Regions from separate parts of the Homo sapiens genome. Here region 1 is linked to region 2. The links come from fine-mapping of genetic effects on gene expression. A gene starts in region 2. The other region holds a variant in brackets. All regions are shown on one strand. Distances are between the middles of the regions. Region 1 holds the start of LOC124900166 (a long non-coding RNA gene). Region 2 holds the start of LINC01587 (long intergenic non-protein coding RNA 1587).

Evidence for each region. PIP is the estimated chance that this variant, and not a neighbour inherited with it, causes the effect.
Region 1: its variant is fine-mapped to the expression of LINC01587 in thyroid (GTEx, PIP 0.94).

What each region holds. Positions count from the first base shown.
Region 1 is chr4:5,543,497-5,551,496 of GRCh38, reverse strand. It overlaps LOC124900166 (a long non-coding RNA gene), which reads left to right and starts at 1,606. Exons shown (of 2, transcript XR_007058006.1): 1 at 1,606-8,000. It also overlaps a transcript of EVC2 not described here. The variant C/T (reference allele first, on the strand shown) is at 3,487.
Region 2 is chr4:5,519,150-5,529,977 of GRCh38, reverse strand. LINC01587 (long intergenic non-protein coding RNA 1587) reads right to left here and starts at 5,409. Exons shown (of 4, transcript NR_126519.1): 1 at 5,250-5,409; 2 at 4,482-4,571; 3 at 3,645-3,762; 4 at 2,177-2,590. It also overlaps a transcript of EVC2 not described here. RefSeq lists an enhancer at 3,825-5,024.

The sequences.
Region 1 (8,000 bases), 23 kb before region 2:
AGGTACAGGCATTGGGTAAATACAGCCATTCCAAATGGGAGAAATTGACCAAAAGAGAGGGGCTACAGGCCCCATGCAAGCCCAAAATCCAGCAGGGCAGTCAAATCTTACAGCTCCAAAATGATGTCCTTTGATTCCATGTCTCACATCCAGGTCATGCTGTTGCAAGAGGTGAGTTCCCCTAGTCTTGGGCAACTCTACCCCTGTGTCTTTGAAGGGCACAGCCCCCCTCCTGGCTGCTTTCATGGGCTGGCATTGAGTGTCTGCAGCTTTTCCAGGTGCATGATGCAAGCTGTCAGTGGATCTACCATTCTGGGGTCTGGAGTACAGTGGCCCTCTTCTCACGGCTCCACTAGGTGATGCCCCAGTAGGGACTCTGTGTGGGTGCTCCAACCCCACATTTTCCTTTCACACTGCCCTGGCAGAGGTTCTCCATGAGGGCCCCACCCCTGCAGCACACCTCTGCCTGGACATCCAGGCATTTCCATACAATTTCTGAAATCTAGGCAGAGGTTCCCAAACCACAATTTTTGACTTCTGTGCACTCACAGGCTCAACACCACGTGGCTGCCAAGGCTTGGGGCTTGCATCCTCTGAAGCCACAGCCTGAGCTCTATGTTGGCCCCTTTCAGCCATGGCTGGAGCAGCTGGGATGCAGGGCACCAAGTCCCTAGGCTGCACACAGCATGGGGACCGTGGGCCAGGCCCACAAAACCACTTTTTCTTCCTAAGCCTCCAGGCCTGTGATGGTAGGGGCTGCTGTGAAGACTTCTGACCTGCCCTGGAGACATTTTCCCCATTGTCTTGGGGATTAACATTGGGCTCCTCATTACTTATGCAAATTTCTGCAGCTGGCTTGAATTTCTCCACAGAAGATAGGATTTTCTTTTCTATTGCGTTCTCAGGCTGCAAATTTTCCAAACTTTTATGCTCTGTTTCCCCTTTAAAACTGAATGCCTTTAACAGCACGCAAGTCACCTCTTGAATGCTTTGCTGCTAGAAATTTCTTCCGCCGGATACCCTAAATCATCTCTTTAAGTTCAGAGTTCCACAAATCTCTAGGATAGGGGCAAAATGCCACCAGTCTCTTTGCTAAAACATAACAAGAGTCACCTTCGCTCTGGTTCCCAACAGGTTCCTCATCTCCATCTGAGACCACCTCAGCCTGGATTTCATTGTCCATATCATTATCAGTATTTTGGTCAAAGCCATTCAACAAGTCTCTATGGAGTTCCAAACTTTCCCACATTTTCCTGTCTTCTTCTGAGCCCTCCAAACTGTTCCAACATGTCTGATACCCAGTTCCAAAGTTGCTTCCACATTTTTGGGTATCTTTTCAGCAGCACCCCACTCCCAGTACCAATTTACTGTATTAGTTCATTTTCACACTGCTAATAAAGACACATCCGAGACTGGGCAATTTATACAGGAAAAATGCTGAATAGACTTACAGTTTCACATGGCTGGGGAGGCTTCACAATCATGGCAGAAAGCAAGGACGAGCAAGTCACATATTACATGGATGACAGCAGGCAAAATGAGTTTGTGCAGGCAAACTCCCATTTTTAAAACCATCAGATTTCATAAGACTTATTCACTATCACAAGAACAGCACAGGAAAGACCAGCCCCCATGATTCAATTACCTCCCACAACATGTGGGAATTCAAGATTAGATTTGGGGGGATACAGCAAAACCATATAAAGGGAAGGAAGAGTGAGCAGGGCCTGTTGTCTTATGCCATAAAATTCATTCAGTTATTTACTTCTAAACTTTGGATATGCATTACTTTTATTAAAAACCTCAAAGTCCTTGGTATTTGGAATCAGAATTCTGGGTTCATTCTCGGTTCTGTCACTTCTGTGAGAGGGTTTGACCTCACAGCTTCATTTTTCTTATTTGTAAAATGGAGACTGTATCACTGGCTAAGTAAGCGGATCGTGAAGATCAGAAAGACTAAATGTCCAATGATGAGCACATCAGCTGGAAAATGGGTAAATGCTTTAAATCACTATGAAGAAAATCTGTGTGGCAGAATGGGAGATGCACATGTGGGCATTGTCAGGGGACAGCCCCTGTGTTAGGCTCTGCTTAGCCCCTCAGACTACCTGTGAGACCCTGGACAAGTTCTTCAACCTCTTTACTACTCATTGTATTCCCCTGTCGAAGGAGGATATGAAACAATCCTCATCTTACAATTATTGCAGGGAGTAAAATAGAAAGCAAACTCCCGTACCCGGGTACCCAGTACAGGTTAAGTGCCTAATCAATGATGGCTAGTTGTGTTGTATTATTGATGAAATTATATTGACATTATAACAATATATCTTAATATAAAAATTGTAGGTTAGTTTTATTGTTGCTATTCAGTTTCAAAATTATGTTAATGAATATTTGATGACCTGAGAAAGCTTTAGTAAATAATGGTAATAAAAAAAGAAGCAGTATTAAATGATAGTACCCAGCCTTCAATCACTGTCTATTCAGGGAGGGAGGGAGGGAGGGACGGAAGAAAGAAAGAAAGAAGGAAGGAAGGAAGGAAGGAAGGAAGGAAGGAAGGGCTCTTGTTTTAGTAAGTGAGTACATATAAATAAAAACAACAAGGAAAGTAGAGCAAATGTTAGCACTGCTTGTCCCTGGAGGGTCATCTACAGGTGATTTTCTTTTATTTTTCCTTTGTGCCTTCTGTAGCTTCCAAATTTGTGTAAATGAATCTCTATTGCCTTTGTCATCAGATAAGAGCACAAAAAATGATATCTGAAATCACAGGTTTGGAATAGAGAAAATAATTTTTCATATTTTACCTTGTAATCATATTTCTGGCTTAGGGGTATCTAAAATCCATTTCACATAACAATAATCAACCACAAAATGATTCTTCTTAGCAATTATTGTACTTTTCTATGATTGGGTAAATTTTCTGCAGACACTCTCTGCATCAGATAAACATTGAGTTCCACTGCATGTAAATAGTAGTGATTTAAATAAAATATGTGTTTAATTTCCTCACATGTGACACACAACTTAGAAGTAGGCAAGGTGGGCTGGAGAAGAGCTCCACAATGTCATCAATGCCATCTTTCTGCTTGGTCATCCTAGATGCATGGCTTCCACCCTCAAGGTTGTCTCATGGTTTCAAGGTGGCTGCTGCAGCTCCCATCATTTCTTCCTCATTCCAGGTGAAGAGAAGTTTTGAGGGATCTTTGGGGTATCACTTTTCTGGCTGGAAATCTCTGTGGCTGGTGGCACCTTTGCCCAAGTTTTGCTTGGGCCTGCTGGGTTCATTTTTCCCACTTGTCCTGGCAGGCTGTGCTTGGCTCACACTACCAGCCTAGATCCCATGCCTGCCAAAGGCAGCAAGGCATGGAGTGGCAAGGGGTGTGTGAGTGAACCAGCGAGGGGTCCAGCCACCGTGCACAGTCAGGCACACCAGCTGCTGCAATGGGGTGGGCAGCTCCAGGTGCCGGCGTGGGCACCGACTCTCTG[C/T]GAGGCTGTGGCTAGACCAGGTGCACCACAGGTAGCTTCCATGGCTGCCACTGGGGAATGCGGTGGCACACGGAAGCTTGGAGAATCCAGGAACCACTGGGCCCCAAAGAGGAAGTCACAGCCTTGGCTCAGGGAGCTCCCAGGTCTGGGCTTACTGAAGGGCTGAAGCTCTTCTCTTCTCTTCAACCACAACATGGCGAGCAAGGGGTATGTTTCAGCCCTGTTTGTGTTATAGCTCTTTCAGCCTGCCTTCCGCAGGTCCCAAGTTCTTATCCTGCGTCCAAGAAGAATGAAGCACGCAGACAAGTGGAGGGTAAGCAAGGTGAAGAGGAGCTTTATTGAGTGACACAGTAGCTCAGAGGAGGCCCAGGAGTGGGTAGCTCCTCTCTGCAGCTGGTCATCCTGATGTCTGCTCAGCTTTGGCTGAACCTGGGGCTTGTATGGGCTTCAGAGGGGAGGAAGTGTATGCCAGTTGGTCCATGGATGGCCATGAATGGCCTGGAAAAGGCACCACAAGTTCCCACTCTGGTCCGTGGGACCGGCAGCTGGGCCCCCAGCCTACAGATCCTCCCTCCCTGAAGGAGGGCCTGAAGGTGGTGCCTCACTGGGGATCTGCCCCCTTCCACCCAGGAACCTCTCTGCCTCCTGCTGCCATTCATGGCGCCCAGGCTGTAGGTGCCAAGAGGCACCTGCAGGCCAGCCATAAGCTGCCTTCAGCACCCCTTTGGCTTCCCTCCTATGCTTATTGGTGTCCAAAGTCCAGAGGGGGCTGAGGCAGTGGGGGGCTGGCATGTCAGCACCGCCCAAAGTGTGTGCACACCTGGCGAAGCTGTGACTTGGCCCTGACTTTGCTCTGAGATCGGAGCAGGCACCAACAGCAGGGAGAAGCCAGGCAGTGGGAGCAGGCATTTCTGAGCCTGCAAGGGCATGGGGGCCTTCCTGGACCCCCAAGAGTGCAGAGATTCCTGAGTCTGCAGCTGTGGTTTGGGAGGCTGTAGCTGTGGCCACAGGGGTGGGGCTCCTGCCTGCTCCATGGAGTAGAAGGCCTGGTTCCACAGTCACAACTTGGGCAGCTGTGGCTGCACCAGGGAAGCTCCTTCCCCACCAATCTGGAAGGTGCAGGGCTCCCACTTGTCCCTGGCTCCCACCAGCTCCATGGAGTATGCCTCCTTGCTGCAGCCAGCATGATGGCAGCAGCCACTCTAGACAGGCTGCTGCTGCCATCAGATGGAGAAAGCAATAGAGCAAAGTGTAATAGCTATGTCAGTTCCCTTTTTTTTTTCAATTTTATTATTATTATACTTTAAGTTTTAGGGTACATGTGCACAACATGCAGGTTTGTTACATATGTATACATGTGCCATGTTGGTGTGCTGCACCCACTAACTCGTCATTTAGCATTAGGTATATCTCCTAATGCTATCCCTGCCCCATCCCCCCACCCCACAATGGTCCCTGGTGTGTGATGTTCCCCTTCCTGTGTCCATGTGTTCTCATTGTTCAATTCCCACCTATGAGTGAGAACATGCGGTGTTTGGTTTTTTGTCCTTGCGATAGTTTGCTGAGAATGATGGTTTCCAGTTTCATCCATGTCCCTACAAAGGACATGAACTCATCATTTTTTTATGGCTGCATAGTATTCCATGGTGTATATGTGCCACGTTTCCTTAATCCAGTCTATCGTTGTTGGACATTTAGGTTGGTTCCAAGTCTTTGCTATTGTGAACAGTGCCGCAGTAAACATACGTATGCATGTGCCTTTATAGCAGCATGATTTATAGTCCTTTGGGTATATACCCAGTAATGGGATGGCTGGGTCAAATGGTATGTCTAGTTCTAGATCCCCGAGGAATTGCCACACTCACTTCCACAATGGTTGAACTAGTTTACAGTCCCACCAACAGTGTAAAAGTGTTCCTGTTTCTCCACATCCTCTCCAGCACCTGTTGTTTCCTGACTTTTTAATGATTGCCATTCTAACTGGTGTGAGATGGTATCTCATTGTGGTTTTGATTTGCATTTCTCTGATGGCCAGTGATGGTGAGCATTTTTTCATGTGTTTTGTGGCTGCATAAATGTCTTCTTTTCCCTTTTAAGAGCTTTTCCAGAAGCCCCACTTAGTGACATCTTCTTGCAAATCATTTCCCAATTCTCCTCTCTTCCTCATCCCTGCAGCACCTTACCTCCTGTTGGACTAGAAAATGGATTTTTATTTGTAATGGTTTTTTTTGCCAATTTTGTTATTTGTGGTATAATCTTTATACTAAATCTTTATACAGAACTGAGTCCCATGACCACCCCAACTTGCAAGGGATGATAAGAAAGGTCATTTTAAATTGGGACTCTCTAGTATGATAGAAAGGGAGAAAGGGTTTGGGTAGGTAACTCGTCTCTGCCAAATTCCCATGTGGCCAGTAGGGAACCAGAGATGGTCCAGCCTCTTCTCTTGCAGGGAGAGGAAGCTCCTGTCTTCTGCATAGATTCCTGCTTCCTCCTGATAACTCTGTGTTTTGAGTAATGAATAATAATATCAGAAGCAAACATTACCTGTTACTGTTCTCATTTTTATATCTGAGGAAACTGGGCTCAGATGAGTAATTCCCTCAGAGTCACCAGCTTAGCAAATTCCAGAGTCAGGCTTCTAACTCATCTGTCTGACTCGGAAGCCTGTGTTCTTTCTAACACACCATACTGACTTCCCTGGCCTGAAAGTGGAATCATTATCTATTTATTCTTTCAACCATTTCTGTGTGTCATTTATTTATGGGCATCTAGTAGATATTCAGTAAATGTTTGTTCAATGGATGAATGAATGAATGAGCGAATGTCTCCTGGAGAGGAGCTCACTATCTACATGGGGACACAGATCCCATACAGGGCCATCTATAGGTGTTGTGAAGCATTGTGGAAGGAAGCCCCCTTTCTGGGAGTGCCTCAGGTAAACTACACGAAGAATAGAACGTTGCACCTGAGCCTGGAGGGCCGAGCAGCAGGCTGTGTCAGTGAAGGGTGTTGGAAGCAGAAGGAACAGCATGTGCTCAGGCTTGAGGTGCAGTGCCAGTGCTGTAGGGATTTTACTGTGGCTGGAGAGACAGGAGTGAGGAGGCTCTGAAGCTAAGGGAGCCAGGGTGGGCAGGGCTGGTGCTGGGGGCTGCAGGGCTGGATCTGTATGTCCTTGGGAGGAACAGGTTGAGAAACCGAGTTTTGATCTGTGGGTCCCAATCCTGAGCATCCAACGGTGGTCACTCACTCCATGTTTTCCCCACAGTATTGGTAACTCCTCACCCCCTCTCTTCTCTGTTTAGTTCTCTGTGATTCTATTTTTGGAGTTTACAAAGTGAACATCCAGTGTGATATGCGGAGAACTCTGGTGATTTGTCCTGAAGCTGTTTCATTTTTTTTGAATTATGGGAGTCTACTCTTCCCTCTTGGGGACCTGGGAGGATTGAACAGCCAAGGGCTTCCCACGGAGTCACTCTCAGCTCTCTGACTCCTGCACTGATTGTGTTGCACTTGTTTTGAAGGCTAATGAGTATGGGAGGTACCCAAACTTTCCACAGAATTGCACCTCTTGTGTGCGTGCATGTGTGTGGGGGGTAGCATGAGACGGATAATCAAATTATTTCCAGAGAAAATAAATTTGAATCTCAGAGGGCTCTGTGAAAGCAGGGACCAATCAATTCCTTCTGCTGTTGATCCACTATTTGACAACTTGCAGATAAAGGTTGTGAAAACAGAATTTTCTCTCTTTTTTTTTTTTTCCATAACAACTTCATTTCCATTTCTAGCCAACATTCATTTTGCAAAAAGCCTTAGGTTGTGGCCAGGTAAGCCCTGTCAAATTCAGTGATTTCCTAGTTAATTTTAGTTTAAACTCAGGTGACCGCAGGGTGTCTCCCTCCCTCTTCTCTCATAGATTTCAGTTTTCATGTGGCAAGTGGGTGTCTGGTGCCCAGTTCCACCGCGTGAGCACCTGGAGGTGCACAATTTGCCGACCTGATGTTCTGAGGTCGATCTCCTGTCCACTGGTCACGAGGGTGCCCACACTGTCACCTGTGCTTGGGTCTCCTCATGATGGCCCTGGAGCCCTCGGGCTTAGCTGAGACCTGAGGCCTGAGGCCTGCACCCCTTTCTGGGCACAAGAAATGTGCTATGCAGGGGTGGTGGATGCTGTGAGAGTGTCCTGCCCAGATGCCCCTCGCAGCCCTGGTGCCAACCCCACAGGGGCTGGAACTGCAATTAATAAGCAGGTACCATTTCCCTCTCCGGTTCCCCTGACCTCTTACCTACCTGGGGTTTCTATAATATTCCCTATTATCCCCCACCCCTATGGTTCTTCCTGGAGGGATTTGGTGTGGAACTCCTTCTGGAACACACTCCCATCAGCCCCTTTCCCGATTCTCCTCTCTTCCTCGTCCCCCTGGCACCTTACCTCCTGTTGGGCTAGGAAACTGGTTTTTATTTGTAATGTATTTTTGCCAATTTTGTTATTTGTGGTATACTCTGTATACTAA
Region 2 (10,828 bases):
CAGGCGTAGTGGTGGGCACCTGTAATCCCAGCTACTCAGGAGGCTGAGGCAGGAGAATCGCTTGCACCGGGAGGTGGAGGTTGCAGTGAGCCGAGATTGCACCACTGCACTTCAGCCTGGGTGACAATAGTGAGACTCCGTCAAAAAAAAAAAAAAAAAAAACCTAAATAACTTAATCAGTTCTTCCCATTTCTGTATCATCAAGGGCATTCATGCATCATATGTAAGTTCTGGAACACAAATTTCCAATTAATATTTTTTATTCAAAAACATAGGATGGCATAAAAACTCAGCCACATGGGAACATTCCTAAGTATTAAGCTTCCAATGTATTTCAATTTACAAGCATTTATTGAGCACCTACTATGTGTCTAGAACCACAATAAGTGAGAGGATGTTTTAAGATATGTTCTTAGTCTGAAGGAGCTCACAGTCTAGCCAGGTTCACATATTTCACAATATTTATTGGCATGTGAGAAAATAACAAACTGCTATAAAACTTCATAGTTGGGTGAGACCACTGTGGGTTGTAGAAATAAGGAAAGGATTCTTCGGGGAGGTAAAAAGCGAATTGAATTATATCACGAAGACTTGGTTGTTGTCTTGGAGGTAAATATAGCACCTATTTCTTCATCTCCTAATTTTGAACCAATTAAGACACAGGAGCGAGACAGATGAGGATGAAAATATCACACTAAAAGGCTGAATTGACCCATGTACCTGAGGTGGGTAGCCATATGGGATTCCTCCTACTTTACCCCCTGAATGAGGTAGCCTCATTCTCCCAGTCACATGTACCATTGACCAGCATAGATTTCTGAAAGGGATGGCTGAGAGGAGTGTGCCCCATTCAGCAAGGAGGCAGAGGCTACAGATGGCTCTCAAAATCTCTCCCGGAGAGTGGAATGGAAATTCTCGGCCTCCGTGGAAACATGAGGGGTAAGCTATATATATATCCTTGTACGACTAGTAAGTTATGCCTACATTAAATTTGGTTTGGAAGTGTGTAACAAAAGTAGTGAGTCTGGATGGGTATATTAACACCAACATCATCAACAACAACATCAACATTAGTAACGTCAACAACATTATCACATCAACAATAGCAGCACAGCAGTAGTGCCAACAGCAGCAACAACGACAATAGAATAACATCTCAGCAACAAGAATAAAAATAGCAACAATAGCACTGTCAACCACATCAGCAAGAACATTAACAGTAACAACGCCAACAGCATCATCACAACATCCGCAGTAGCAGCATCAACAGCATCATCACAACACCCGCAGTAATGTCAACAGTATCATCACAACACCCACAGTAACAATGCCAACAGCAGCATCACAACATCTACAGAAACAGTGTCTAGAGCATCATCACTACTTCCATAGTTACAACATCAACAGCGATATAACAGTATCAAGAAACAACATCAGCAGCATCATCACAACACCTGTAGTAATAGTGTCAATAGCCTCATCGTGACACGGCACCCACAGTAATAGTGTCAACAGCACATCACTGTGCCCATAGTAACATCATCACAACATCCACAGCAACTGTGTTAACAGCATCACGCCAACATCTACAGTAAATGTGTTAACAGCGTCATCACAACATCCATAGTAAGTGTCAACACCACCATCACGGCATCCACAGTAAAGCTTCAACAGCATCATCACAACATCCACAGCAACAACATCATCACAGCATCCACAGTGACACTGTCAACAGCATCATTGCAACATCCACAGTGACAATGTCAACAGCATCATCACAGCAACAGTAGCAGCACATCAGCAGCAACAACTGCCACAAAATGGCAACAACAGCGGTATCAAAAATAATCAGAACAGTAGTGAAAACACTGTCACCAACAACAGCAAAAACATCAGCAACCACATAATCTGCAGAAACAGCAGCAAAAATAGCAAGAGCAGTAGCAGCAGCAGCAGTAACAATAACAAAAACAGCAGCAACACCATCAACAGCAATAACAAGGCTAGGTAGCATTTATAGAGTGCTTGTCTGACACCAGTCTCCAGGCTAAGTGCTGAACATGCATGATCTCATTTAACCCTCACAGGATTTATCTTAAACACTGGAATAGAGAGAGACTGTAGATAAAATTATGCCCATGAGATAGGTGTAATCCAGTAAAAAAGGACTCAGTTGTTTAGCTGGGTAGGTCTGGGTTCTAATCCAGATTCTTTTATTATCTAAGCAACCTCAGGCAAACTCTTTAACCTTCCTGCATTTCAATTTGTCATCTCCAAGTGGGGAAAAAAATCTGCAGCCTGGATTTGTTGTGAGGACTCAGTGAGGTCGTGCGGTGAGGTACTGGCACGTTCCCACGGGGTTACCTGGGTGGGAAGGCATCTTGTCAAATCAAACTCAAGAGGAACCACTGGGAGGATGAGGTTGTGGCTCTGCCCACCCTCTCTCTTCTCCAGTATTCTTTGTCTTTTCGTCATGTTGGTTTCTCCCAGCTGGGAGCTGTCAGAAACGCTCAGAAGGGGGGGAAAAGGCAGCCTTTCATCCCCTAAGCTTGTCATCCTCAGCTTTTTGCCAATGCTCAGTTCTTTTTTCCTAGGGAAGATAAAAAAGAAAACACATGAAAACCCCACAAACATAAACACATCAGACACAATCCTACTTCTTCAAGGCAGAGTCTCAGGAGACTGCCTTCTAAGGGGAAGACAAAGGGAGTTGGACCTTTGTCCATCTGGGAGCAGGCTCTGCGTGTTTGTTCTTAGGAGACTTGGCACAAAGGCGAAGGTTGGCTCTCCCCCTCCCAATAAATGTGGACACACTTTCCGTAGGCCCTGTGTCTGAAGGCAGCACAGTGCATTTGAGAAGCTGGGATGCTGGAAACAGCACACTTAGAATAAGCACCAAAGAGGATGGCTGAAGCAACTCCCCCACCTTGCCTGACAGAATTCATCTATGAATATAGGTACTCCTCCTTCTGTGCCAAGCATCCAATCAATGAAATGATAGTTATTCTTCCCCATTAGCTTCATGAAGTCAAAGCCTGCTTTGTTTGGTTCACCACTGTATTCACCATTACTATTGTCCCCAGTAGGTCATATTCTCCTAGAAGCAGAGCCTGAGCCAAGGATTCAATGCAAGGGATTTGTTGAGGCAGTGCTCCCGAGATGTACCAGTGAGGGAGTTGGGGGTGGGGCACAAATAGGGGAGGAGAGGAGACTCAACAAGTGTATCATCTTGGGTGACACCCCAGCCTCATCTTGGTCTTGAGTGGTGTGCTGAAGCAGAGATGATATCTCAGAGTTTGTCCTCTCCAAGGCACAGGTGCTGGGCTTTTGTATTCCCACAATGGTCAGTCACTGGCTGTGGCTTAGGGGGGATGGGAAGGGCTGAGAATGAGTTGCCAAGTTGTTCCAGCTCTCCAGGGAAGGCCCCAGTGCTCAGGGGAAACTTAGCAGCAGGGCATACAGGGGCTGGGCTGGATGCACAGGGCTGGTAAAAGGCTTCAGAGGGGGTCTGAGCTGGGCACCATCAGGGTCTGCTGTTTTTCTTTAATCCAAGAATTGAGAGAGAGAAAGCAGTAAAAAAAAAAAAAAATAGGATTGCATTGATTTCTTTTCATGTAGACTCCATGATCTGGACAGAAAGTTACCTTCATTGATGCACTGCAGTTGAGTGAGCACCGGAGACAGTCACACTGGGGTTTGGGTCAAAGGTCCAGCTGGCAGCAAAGCATTCTGGCTCTGTTTTATCTGCAGTGTCTGCAGTTCCTGTATGTAGAGGGAAGAAGGCTGGTGTTCCCAGGTCTCCTTTTATATAATTATAAAATGAGCTTTTATAATTATAAAAGCAATGCGTGAAAATAAACAAAATCAACATTCCTGAAGGGGCTAAAATATGCTCTTTTGGTAGGTTGACTATTTCAGTTAAAGGCACTTGAAAAACAGCAGGTGCAAAGAGATCAGTCTGAACTTCATTTTCTTAAAAGCAGAAGATGAAATTCCCATGTGAAAGATGTCCTCCCTACACTAGAGAAAAAGCAAGGTTCTTATCATCAAGGACAAGAAAGTTGAAGTGGAACGAATTTTGTACAAACAAGCCTTGTTCAACTAACACTTGTCATGCTGGCTACTTCTCTATCCAGTTAACCACCCTAGCCCAAGACCCTTTGCCTGATCACATGTTTACAGTTTATAATTCTTTGTCAAATCTGGTAAAGAATTAACTGACTCTGACAGCTTCTTTGTGTCTTTATTTCTTTATGAGGCTCCTATGCTATGTAAAACTTGTGTTGTGCTTTGCTCCTGTTAATCTATGTTATGTCAATGTAATTCTTGGACCCTCCTGGGACCCTAAAAGGGTGAAGTAGTATTCTTCTGTCCCAACAGTTTCTGTCCTAAAAGGCTGAGCACCTTCCGACTCACTCTGGAGCCTGCAGATGGGATCCTGAGGGGCCTAATAAATGATGGAAGAAAGTAGGAATTCTTACCAAGGTCAGCTCTCCTGGATTTCCGTCCATAGTGTCCAATTGAAAGAAGAAGGTAAAAATTTTTGCGTGTTCCTTCCTTCCCAAATTCAACTGACAGGAAAAAAAAAATTGTAAAAAATTGGTTCTTTGAATTGTGAGTCTTGTGAATTTGCTTCTGGGTGTCCATTGGTAATTGATCCACAGCCTCCCAGGAAGTCCTTGTTTTTCTTATCTCTGTCTTTTGTGTGGGTTGTCATAAGGAAGAAAATTATAATTAATTAGATTTGAGGTAGGAGGCTGGCAGGGCTTGTTTTCTGGTCATGACCTCACTGATCTGGTTTGAAAGGATATGGTTGAAACAGAATGCAGTGAAGAAGCCAGCCAAAATAAGCAGATGGCCATGAAAGTGACCTGTAGTTGCCCTCACTACTCATTAGCATAAAGACATTCCCATGGGTGCCGTGACAGTTTACACATGCCATGGCAATGGGCCATAGCAATGGCCTGGAAGTTACCATATATGGTTCTGGACGCTCTCGGCCCCTTTTCCAGAATGTTCTGAATAATCCACCTCTTAATTAGCATATAATTAAAAGTGGGTATAAATACAGCTGCCAACAGCTTACACATTGCTGACTCTGGGCACACTGCTTATGGGTTAGCCCTGCTCTGCAAGGAGCAGCACTGGCTCCATAAACACTGCTTTCTGTCACCACTGGCTCACCCTTGAGTTCGTTCCTGGGTGAAGCCAACAACCCTCTCAGGTTGATCCCCAATTTTGAGGCTCACCTGTCCTGCATCAGACTCTGCTTCATCTTCTCTGAAGTCATAAGAGCTTGGCTTTGTAATCAGTGAAAATGTGCTCTTTGGTTTCTATCAGCCTGGGGCTCAAGCTGTTGGGCTTGTGCCCAGCAGTTAGCCAGCTCTCCAGGATTCTGAAACAAGAAGTGTCTCTTTGTATGAACTGTGCCAGCTCTCAGGACAGTTTGTCGTAATTGTCTCAGCCTTTGTTGCCCTGTTAACAATGAGGGTCTTCACTTTCTTAGGTATCCTTGGAGGAAACTTTGGATCTGGGGTGGGGGTGGGACTTCTGTACCCTCTTTATGGATGCCTCTTTTGTCCATGATTAAACCATAAAAAGATGATCAGTTTTGAGTCAAAACTGAAGTAGGTATACCTTTGAAAATTTGGACTTTTGTATCTAAAAGTATTTTTTTTAAGAGAACTCTCATCCTAAGTAACTGTCCTATTGGTACCTATGTGAAGATTTGGCTTAAAAGAAAAAAAAACTTATATAAATTGTTATCTCAGAAAAAGAGAAACTAACCTAAGTGTTTTTCAAGTTCACGTGGTTTTACATAATCTTTGGTAAATAAAAACCTACTTAAAGTTTGCTGATTTAATTAAACCAGCAATATTATTATACTTTAAGTTTTAGGGTACATGTGCACAATTTGCAGATTTGTTACATATGTATACATGTGCCAAGTTGGTGTACTGCACCCATTTAGCACATTTCGCACCCATAATGCACGTCATTTAGCATGAACTCATCATTTTTTATGGCTGCATAGTATTCCATGGTGTGGATGTGCCATATTTTCTTAATCCAGTCTATCGTTGTTGGACATTTGGGTTGGTTCCAAGTCTTTGCTATTGTGAATAGTGCCGCAATAAACATACGTGTGCATGTGTCTTTATAGCAGCAAGATTTATATTCCTTTGGGTATATACCCAGTAATGGGATGGCTGGGTCAAATGGTATTTCTAGTTCTAGAACCCTGAGGAATCGCCACACTCACTTCCACAATGGTTGAACTAGTTTACAGTCCCACCAACAGTGTAAAAGTGTTCCTATTTCTCCACATCCTCTCCAGCACCTGTTGTTTCCTGACTTTTTAATGATTGCCATTCTAACTGGTGTGAGATGGTATCTCATTGTGGTTTTGATTTGCATTTCTCTGATGGCTAGTGATGAGGAGCATTTTTTCATGTCTCTTTTGGCTGCATAAATGTCTCCTTTTGAGAAGTGTCTGTTCATATCCTTCGCCCAGTTTTTGATGAGGTTGTTTGTTTTTTTCTTGTAAATTTGTTTGAGTTCATTGTAGATTCTGGATATTAGCCCTTTGTCAGATGAGTAGGTTGGGAAAATGTTCTCCTATTTTGTCGGTTGCCTGTTCACTCTGATGGTAGTTTCTTTTGCTGTGCAGAAGCTCTTTCGTTTAATTAGATCCCATTTGTCAATTTTGGCTTTTGTTACCATTGCTTTTGGTGTTTTAGACATGAAATCCTTGCCCATGCCTATGTCCTGAATGGTATTGCCTAGGTTTTCTTCTAGGGTTTTCATGGTTTTAGGTCTAACATTTAAGTCTTTAATCCATCTTGAATTAATTTTTGTATAAGGTGTAAGGAAGGGATCCAGTTTCAGCTTTCTCCATATGGCTAGCCAGTTTTCCCAGCACCATTTATTAAATAGGGAATCCTTTCCCCATTGCTTGTTTTTCTCAGGTTTGTCAAAGATCAGATAGTTGTAGATATGTGGCATTATTTCTGAGGGCTCTGTTCTGTTCCATTGATCTATATCTCTGTTTTGGTACCAGTACCATGCTGTTTTGGTTACTGTAGCCTTGTAGTATAGTTTGAAGTCAGGTAGCGTGATGCCTGCGGCTTTGTTCTTTTGGCTTAGGATTCACTTGGTGATGCGGGCTCTTTTTTGATTCCATATGAACTTTAAAGTAGTTTTTTCCAATTCTGTGAAGAAAGTCATTGGTAGCTTGATGGGGATGGCATTGAATCTATAAATTACCTTGGGCAGTATGGCCGTTTTCACGATATTGATTCTTCCTACCCATGAGCATGGAATGTTCTTCCATTTGTTTGTATCTTCTTTTATTTCATTGAGCAGTGGTTTGTAGTTCTTCTTGAAGAGGTCCTTCACATCCCTTGTAAGTTGGATTCCTAGGTATTTTATTCTCTTTGAAGCAATAGTGAATGGGAGTTCACTCATGATTTGGCTCTCTGTTTGTCTGTTATTGGTGTATAAGAATGCTTGTGATTTTTGTACATTGATTTTGTATCCTGAGACTTTGCTGAAGTTGCTTATCAGCTTAAGGAGACTTTGGGCTGAGACAATGGGGTTTTCTAGATATACAATCATGTCATCTGCAAACAGGGACAATTTGACTTCCTCTTTTCCAAATTGAACACACTTTATTTCCTTCTCCTGCCTAATTGCCCTGGCCAGAACTTCCAACACTATGTTGAATAGGAGTGGTGAGAGAGGGCATCCCTGTCTTGTGCCAGTTTTCAAAGGGAATGCTTCCAGTTTTTGCCCATTCAGCATGATATTGGCTGTGGGTTTGTCATAGATAGCTCTTACTATTTTGAGATACGTCCCATCAATACAGAATTTCTTGAGAGTTTTTAGCATGAAGGTTGTTGAATTTTGTCAAAGGCCTTTTCTGCATCTATTGAGATAATCATGTGGTTTTTGTCTTTGGTTTTGTTTATATGCTGGATTACATTTATTGATTTGTGTATGTTGAACCAGCCTTGCATCCCAGGGATGAAGCTCACTTGATCATGGTAGATAAGCTTTTTGATGTGCTGCTGGATTCGGTTTGCCAGTATTTTATTGAGGATTTTTGCATCAATGTTCATCAAGGATATTGGTCTAAAATTCTCTTTTTTGGTTGTGTCTCTGCCCGGCTTTGGTATCAGGATGATGCTGGCCTCATAAAATGAGTTAGGGAGGATTCCCTCTTTTTCTATTGATTGGAATCATTTCAGAAGGAATGGTACCAGCTCCTTCTTGTACCTGTGATAGAATTCGGCTGTGAATCCATCTGGTCCTGAACTCTTTTTGGTTGGTAAGCTATTGAATATTGCCACAATTTCAGAGCCTGTTATTGGTCTATTCAGAGATTCAACTTCCTCCTGGTTTAGTGTTGGGAGGGCGTATGTGTCGAGGAATTTATCCATTTCTTCTAGATTTTCTAGTTTATTTGCGTAGAGGTGTTTGTAGTATTCTCTGATGGTAGTTTGTATTTCTGTGGGATCGGTGGTGATATCCCCTTTATCATTTTTTATTGGGTCTATTTGATTCTTCTCTCTTTTCTTCTTTATTAGTCTTGCTAGCAGTCTATCAATTTTGTTGATCTTCTCAAAAAACCAGCTTCTGGATTCATTAATTTTTTGAAGGGTTTTTTATGTCTCTATTTCCTTCAGTTCTGCTCTGATTTTAGTTATTTCCTGCCTTCTACTAGCTTTTGAATGTGTACGCTCTTGCTTTTCTAGTTCTTTTAATTGTGATGTTAGGGTGTCAATTTTGGATCTTTCCTGCTTTCTCTTGTGGGCATTTAGTGCTATAAATTTCCCTCTACACACTGCTTTGAATGCGTCCCAGAGATTCTGGTATGTTGTGTCTTTCTTCTGGTTGGTTTCAAAGAACATCTTTATTTCTGCCTTCATTTTGTTATGTACCCAGTAGTCATTCAGGAGCAGGTTGTTCAGTTTCCGTGTAGTTGAGCGGTTTTGAGTGAGTTTCTTAATCCTGAGTTGTAGTTTGATTGTACTGTGGTCTGAGAGAAAGTTTGTTATAATTTCTGTTCTTTTACATTTGCTGAGGAGAGCATTACTTCCAAGTATGTGGTCAATTTTGAAATAGGTGTGGTGTGGTGCTGAAAAAAAATGTATATTCTGTTGATTTGGGGTGGAGAGTTCTGTACATATCTATTAGGTCTGCTTGGTGCAGAGCTGAGTTCAATTCCTGGGTATCCTTGTTAACTTTCTGTCTCATTGATCTGTCTAATGTTGACAGTGGGGTGTTAAAGTCTCCCATTATTATTGTGTGGGAGTCTAAGTCTCTTTGTAGTTCACTCAGGACTTGCTTTATGAATCTGGGTGCTCTTGTATTGGGTGCATATATATTTAGGATAGTTAGCTCTTCTTGTTGAATTGATCCCTTTACCATTATGTAATGGCCTGGTCTCTTTTGATCTTTGTTGGTTTAAATTCTGTTTTATCAGAGACTAGGATTGCAACCCCTACCTTTTTTTGTTTTCCATTTGCTTTATTTTGAGCCTACGTGTGTCTCTGCACATGAGATTGGTTTCCTGAATACAGCACACTGATGGGTCTTGACTCTTTATCCATTTTGCCAGTCTGTGTCTTTTAACTGGAGCATTTAGTCCATTTACATTTAAAGTTAATATTGTTATGTGTGAATTTGTTTCTGTTATTATGATGTTAGCTGGTTATTTTGCTCATTAGTTGATGCAGTTTCTTCCTAGCCTCCATGGTCTTTACAATTTGGCATGTTTTTGCAGTGGCTGGTACCGGTTGTTCCTTTCCATGTTTAGTGCTTCGTTCAGGAGCTCTTTTAGGGCAGGCCTGGTGGTGACACAATCTCTCAGCATTTGCTTGTCTGTAAAGTATTTTATTTCTCCTTCACTTATGAATCTTAGTTTGGCTGGATATGAAATTTTGGGTTGAAAATTATTTTCTTTAGGAATGTTGGATATTGGCCCCCACTCTCTTCTGGCTTGTAGAGTTTCTGCCGAGCGATCACCTGTTAGTCTGATGGGCTTCCCTTTGTGGGTAACCCGACCTTTCTCTCTGGGTGCCCTTAACATTTTTTCCTTCATTTCAACTTTGGTGAATCTAACAATTATGTGTCTTGGAGCTGCTTTTCTCGAGGAGTATCTTTGTGGTGTTCTCTGTATTTCCTGAATCTGAATGTTGGCCTGCCTTGCTAGATTGGGGAGGTTCTCCTGGATAATATCCTTCAGAGTGTTTTCCAACTTGGTTCTATTCTCCCCGTCACTTTCAGGTACACCAATCAGACATAGATTTGGTCTTCTCACATAGTCCTATATTTCCTGGAGACTTTGTCCCTTTCTTTTTATTCTTTTTTCTCTAAACTTCCCTTCTCGCTTCATTTCATTCATCTTCCATCACTGATACCCTTTCTTCCAGTTGATCGCATCAGCTCCTGAGGCTTCTGCATTCTTTATGTAGTTCTTGAGCCTTGGTTTTCAGCTCCATCAGGTCCTTTAAGGACTTCTCTGCATTGGTTATTCTAGTTATCCATTCGTCTAATTTTTTTCCAAGTTTTTAACTTCTTTGCCATTGGTTTGAATTTCCTCCTGTAGCTCGGAGTAGTTTGATCGTCTGAAGCCTTCTTCTCTCAACTCGTCCAAGTCATTCTCCATCCAGCTTTGTTCTATTGCTGGTGAGGAACTGCGTTCCTTTGGAGGAGAGGCGCTCTGCTTTTTAGAGTTTCCAGTTTTTCTGCTCTATTTTTTCCCCATCTTTGTGGTTTTATCTACTTTTGGTCTTTGATGATGGTGATGTACAGATGGGGTTTT